2 linked regions of the Homo sapiens genome follow. The protein of the gene in region 2 purifies or fractionates together with the protein of the main gene of each other region. This does not show direct contact. Each region holds a gene or a part of one and is shown on either strand. Other genes may lie near its edges.

The links.
Region 1: the proteins of COPS7A (region 2) and DCAF1 purify together in Homo sapiens (affinity purification with mass spectrometry; 4 studies listed by BioGRID and IntAct, with this or other methods). This does not show direct contact.

Annotation. Positions count from the first base shown.
Region 1 is NC_000003.12:51,423,516-51,427,015, forward strand, and holds part of DCAF1 (DDB1- and CUL4-associated factor 1), read right to left. Parts: intron 2,494-3,500; exon of another isoform or gene 2,395-2,493; intron 1-2,394. UniProt on the Homo sapiens protein: Acts both as a substrate recognition component of E3 ubiquitin-protein ligase complexes and as an atypical serine/threonine-protein kinase, playing key roles in various processes such as cell cycle, telomerase regulation and histone modification.
Region 2 is NC_000012.12:6,729,706-6,732,365, reverse strand, and holds the end of COPS7A (COP9 signalosome complex subunit 7a), read right to left. Parts: intron 1,965-2,660; coding exon 1,859-1,964; intron 1,698-1,858; coding exon 1,546-1,697; intron 1,367-1,545; coding exon 1,327-1,366; 3' UTR 501-1,326; downstream 1-500.

The sequences.
Region 1 (3,500 bases), on a different chromosome or scaffold from region 2:
AAGAAAAGAAAAAAGACTCAGGCCGGGTGCAGTGGCTCACGCCGGTAATCACAACAATTTGGGAGGCTGAGGCAGGCGGATGACCTGAGGTCAGGAATTCAAGACCAGCCTGGCCAACATGTTGAAACCCCATCTCTATTAAAAAATACAAAAACCAGCCAGGCATGGTGGTGGGCATCTGTAATCCCAGCTACTCAGGAGGCTGAGGCAGGAAGAACTGCTTGAATCTGGGAGGCAGAGGCTACAGTGAGCCAAGATCACACCACTGCACTCGAGCTTGGTCAACACAGTGAGACTCCGTTTCAAAAAAAAAAAAAAAAAGAAAGAAAGAAATAATCAGAAGAATTTATGTATTAAGATGTTCATTAGCCACATTAAAATAGCAAAAGAATGAGAAAACCCACATAGACAAGAGCACCATATGTGTTAGAGTATAGTACACTCATAAACTACAGCCATTGACAATCATTTTCAAAGAACCCTAAAGAATGAGGGAAAGGGTTCAAAATACAACATTAATGATATAAAAATAAAAAATGTAAGATATAAAATTAAAAATCTGACAATACCAAGTACTGGCAAGAAAGTAGAGAAATGTTGGATGTCTTTTGTAGTTAAAAAAGAAAAAACCGGCTGGGTGTGGTGGGAGACCAGGGCAGGTGGATCACGAGGTCAGGAGTTCAAGACCAGCCTGGCCAATATGGTGAAACCCTGTCTCTACTAAAAATACAAAAATTAGCTGGGCATGGTAGTGGGCGCCTGTAGTCCCAGTTACTCAGGAGGCTGAAGCAGGAGAATCGCTTGAACCCAGGAGGCGGAGGTTGCCATAAGCCGAGATTGCACCACTACTGCACTCCAGCCTGGGTGACAGAGCAAGACTCTGCCTCAAAAAAAAAAAAGAAAAAAAAAAGTAGAGAAATGAAAGCTCCTATATATTGCTGGTGGGGGATGACAATGGTATGAACATTTTTAGAAGCAATTTGGCAATATCCAATAAAGGTAAGAACACAGACACCCTACAAACCAGATGCTCTACATCATATCCTCAAGAGAGCCTCCAAAAGGAGGTTCATGATACCATTTATTTAATAGCCAAAAAAACCAAACAAAAACACTAAATTAGCCATCAATGGCAGAATAAACTGCAGTATAGAAATACAGCATTTTAAATAAATATCAACATATATAAATCTCAAGAATATAAGGGTAAAAAAAGCAAGCTGTGAAAGATGAACTTAGGAAAATATTTATAATTTAAAAACATGCAAAGCAGTATGACGTTATTATTTATGAACACACAGATATATATAGTATAAAAACATGAGTGGGGAGAATATGGTTCAAATTCAGAAGATGGGTGACTCTGGGGAGGCAGAAAAAGAACTGAGCCAAAAGCAAATACAACAACATGCCAATCCTGGTTAATGATGGAGCAGTTGTTAAACTATTCTCTGTGCCTTTCTATGTTTTGAAAATATTCATAAAAAAGATGAATTTGATTAAAAGTATAATATTAATTATGTGTATTTGCAAATATTACGTAGTGAATGCTAAGAGTAATTTTCTTTTCTCTTTAAAAGATTCTGCATATTCTAAAGCAGAAACATTTATTAATTTTATTTCTAAAAATAAATTTTTAAAATCAAGGACATATTTTTTCAATAATCCAAATACAGGCCGGACCGTGTTTCATGCCTATAATCCCAGCACATTGAGAGGCTGAGGCAGGCAGATCACTCAAGGCCAGGAGTTCGAGACCAGCCTGGCCAACATGGCAAAACCCCGTCTCTACTAAAAAATGCAAAAAGTAGCTGGGCTTGGTGGTGCGTGTCTGTAATCCCAGCTACTTCAGAGACTGAGGCACAAGAATCACTTGAACCTGGGAGGTGGAGGTTGGAGTGAGCCAAGATCCTGCCACTGCACTCCAGCCTGGGCAACAGAGCAAGACTCTGTCTCCAAAACCAACAAAAAAATAAATAAACACAGATGTACCAGTTTAAAAAATGTATTTATACCCTTTCTAGTTATCTTGTAAGCTGTCATCTTTTTTTTTTTTTTTTTTTTGGAGACAGAGTCTTGCTCTGTTGCCCCGGCTAAAGTGCAGTGGCACCATCTTGGCTCACTGCATTCTCTACCTCCTGGGCTCAAGCAATCCTCCCACCTCAGCGTCCCTAGTAGCTGGGACTACAGACATGCGGCAACACACCAGGCTAATTTTTTTTATTTTTGGTAGAGATGGGGTTTCACCATATTGCCCAGGCTGGTCTCGAACTCCTGATCTCAAGCAATCTGCCCGTCTCAGCCTCCCTAAGTGCTGGGATTACAGGTATGAACCACCACGCCTGGCCTATCATCACTTTTTAAACAATTCTCCAAATAAATATAATAACCTACTTTTCCAATATTCTAAAACAGCACTTCTCAAAGTATAGTCTGGAGACCTCTAGAAGTCTGAGACCCTTTCAGAAGGTCCTGTGAAGTCAAAGCTATTTTCGTAATAATAAGATGTCACTTTCCTTTTGCACTCTCATTCTCTCATTGCATAGTAAGAGAGTCTTCCAGAGATGATGTGATGTCACAAAAACTGAATACAGAAGCAGATATGAGATATTAGGCCAGACATTTTTTCAAACTTGCTAAAATTATCTGGTTTTATTTTGGAAATTTTTCATGAATAACGCAAACATGCAATGGGTTCACTTTTTTTTTTTTGAGATGAAGACTTGCTCTGTCGCCTAGGCTGGAGTACAGTGGCGTGATCTCAGCTCCCTGCAACCTCTGCCTCCTGGGTTCAATTGATTCTCCTGCCTCAGCCTCCCAGGTAGCTGGGACTACAGGTGCGTAACACCACCCCCGGCTAATTTTTCTATTTTTAGTAGAGATGGGGTTTCACCACATTGCCCAGGCTGGTCTCAAACTTCGGACCTCAAGTGATCTGCCCACCTCGTCCTTCCAAAGTGCTGAAATTACAAGCATGAGCCACTGTGCCTGGCCCACATTTTTAATGCATAAATATTTTTACATTTTCTGTTTTAATTTCTAATACTGATAGATATAACACAAAAACAAAAGCCTTTTAGAGTTCTCAGTAATTATTAATATGGTAAAGGTATCTTGAAACCAAAAAGTTTAATAACACCTGCTCCAAGAGTACCTTACAATATTTAAATGCTGGGATTTAACAAACTTACTATATTCCCCTAAATAAGCCCCTCTCTTATCTTTATGGCAGTGAGTGAATAGGAAAAGAAGGTCAAGCACTCTGTTTATAAACTTTTTTACTATCTTCTCTTAAGACCCCATCTTTTTCAAAACAGTTTTATTTCTTTTTATATCATCTTCAAATAGAACCTACCCAGTTTCCTGATTACATCAGCCACCCTTTTCTGGGCCTTGTCCTGCTCTGCCTTAAACTAATTTGTGAAAATCCTAACAGTATGTCGAATTCCAAGAGTAAAAGGACAATTTTATATGAACGTAATATAAACATTATATATGGT
Region 2 (2,660 bases):
CGTGAGCCACCGCGCCCGGCCTTTTTTTTTTTTTTGAGATGGAGTCTCACTCTGTCACTCAGGCTGGAGTGCATGATCTCGGCTCACTGCAACCTCCACCTTCCAGGTTCGAGCGATTCTCCTGCCTCAGCCTCCTTAGGGGATTATGGGCATGAGCCACCACACCCAGCTAATTTTTTTGCATTTTTAGTAGAGATGGGTTTCACCATGTTGGCCAGGTTGGTCTCACACTCCTGACCTCAAGTGATACGCCCGCCCTGGCCTCCCAACATGCTGGGATTACGGTCGTGAGCCACTGCACCCAGCCATATCCATTACTTCTGAATGGATGCTGAGCAACCTGTCCAAAGCCATACAGCTTGGGATCTAGGCCTCAGCCAGGGACTCAGCAAATAGTATCTGGGTCTCTTCATTTTCCAGCACTGTGCTTGAGTGAATTGGGAATGAGTCTTCTTCCCATCCACAAATATCAAACACAGAAGATACCCAGTTCAGGGTAGTTTGTAGATAGATTTCTCATAGATTTATTTCTGCGTCATATTATATATAGATATATGCATATATACCTTTTTTTTTTTAATACAATCTATATACCCTTCCCTTCCCCACCAAACTCACAAAAGGAGATTAAACCCTTCCAGGATTGCCATCAAGCTTCCCGAGATGGCCAGGGCCAAGAAAGAATCATCTCTCAACATGTTAAGAAACGGCTGCCATTCTTAGGCTCTGGGGTTGAAGCAGCAGCATTCCCAGGACCCAAGGGCCAGAGAGAGGAAAAGAAATGACTGTAGTGTGACAGGATTCTAGGATGAACATGTCCAGTGACTCCTGGCATGGCAGACTGGCTCCCAGAATTCTCAGGGTGTGAGTAAAGGTGGGGGCCCTATGGCTCTTCAGAGGCTGCTCAATAGGTCAGGGGTAGGGTATAGGAACTGGGGATCAGGCATGCAGGGATGGGGTGGCAGAAAAAACGCCTGTGGGTTATGCTCCAGACAGAGCGACCCCCATCAGGGCTACCCACCTACTCAATGACATGTAATGAACAGGGACAGATGCTGAGCTCTTAAGGAAACAAGGGAGAGAGCATGGCAGCGGGGAGCAATGGAACACATGAAGTCACAAAAAACAGAAAGTACCAACAAAAACATGACCTACATTTGCCTCCTCCCTAGAGAAGGTGTGATCTATGTTTGGGGTTAGGGGAGGTGAAGGGTCATGAACCTAGGATTATCAGCTGGCCAGGGGCACAGAAGGCTCTCTGAGGACTCCTAAGAGGCAGGCAGGCAGCTGGGACCCCACATCCCCAGGGAGGAAACGACAGTCCTTTCAATTCGACTTGGACCAAATCTTGGCGCTCCCTCGGAGCCTGGCAAGGAGAAGAGAGAGAAAGAGAGAGAGAGAGAGAATGCAGGGAATCCCCTAACCCCTGGAGGCTCCCCCACTCCCTACTCCCATGCAAATAACTGAAGGAAATGAGGACAGTGAGGTCCCTGGGGTAAAAGCAGGGCACCCTGCAAGTGAGCAGTTCCTGCTACCCTGGCTCACCCCTTGCCCTTTGAGGCTTTCTTGCTGGGCTGGCGCTGGTTGGTGCCAGGAGCTGGTTCCCTCAGCTCAGTCAGGTGTTGCTCAGGGTCCTGAGATGTGGCTGCGGCTGCTGCTGCCGTCGTAACTTTAATGGTTTTTTTAAGGTTGGCAACCTACCAGGATGAAAGGAATGGGGATAGCAAGGAAGGTTCCAGAACCTTCCAGCCCCTGCTCATCTGGTTGTCTGCTACAGCCACTGTCCAAATTCTCTCTGCAAAGGACAAGTCGCCCAGGCTGGAGGAGTTTGGGTCTGCCTGCTCCCCTGACTGCTCACCTCACTCTCAATCTGCTGCTTCAGGCCCAGCTGCTGCTCCTTGTGTTGGTTGGCACGGCTCACCTGCTCCTCAATGCCTGACAGCACGACCTCACAGCCCACACACCTGCAGGAGTCAGGGGAGAGAAGTGTCAGCAGACAAGGGCTGCGATCACAGACTCACAGAAAACTGACTCAAAAAGAACCCTAGAGGCAGGGCGCAGTAGCTCACCCCCATAATCCCTGCATTTTGGGAGGCCAAGATGGGCGAATTGCTTAAGCTCAGGAGTTCAAGACCAGCCTGAGCGATATGGCAAAAATCCGTCTCTACAAAAAATACAAAAACTAGCTGGATGTGGTGACACGAGCCTGTAGTCCCGTGCTACTCAAGAGACTGAGGTGGAGGGTGGCTTGAGCCCTGGAAGTTGGAGGCTGCAGTGAGTCAAGATGGTGCCACTGCACTCCAAACTGAGCAACAGAGCCAGAACACAGCTTCTGGCATTTTGAGTCTGAGTTGGGAACCCTCACCAGGGCACCTAGAAACCACCTGTGATAACACTCCTAGCAGTGGGATGGACACTCGGTGTGGTCAGAGAGGGATAAGGAAGCGCCTGGAGTGATGAGCAAGATGGGAGTAGGAACTGAAAACAAAATAGGGTAGGAGATGCCAAAGAGAAAAAGAGGTGACTTAATGAATACAGAAACCCTGAAGTTAGATGGGGACACAAAGAAAATAAAAAAGAGGAAAAGGGTCATGGCCTGTGGATAATGGTAGTTACAGATCAATCGACAGAGTCTAGCCTAAGACAGGCGACCGACCTTG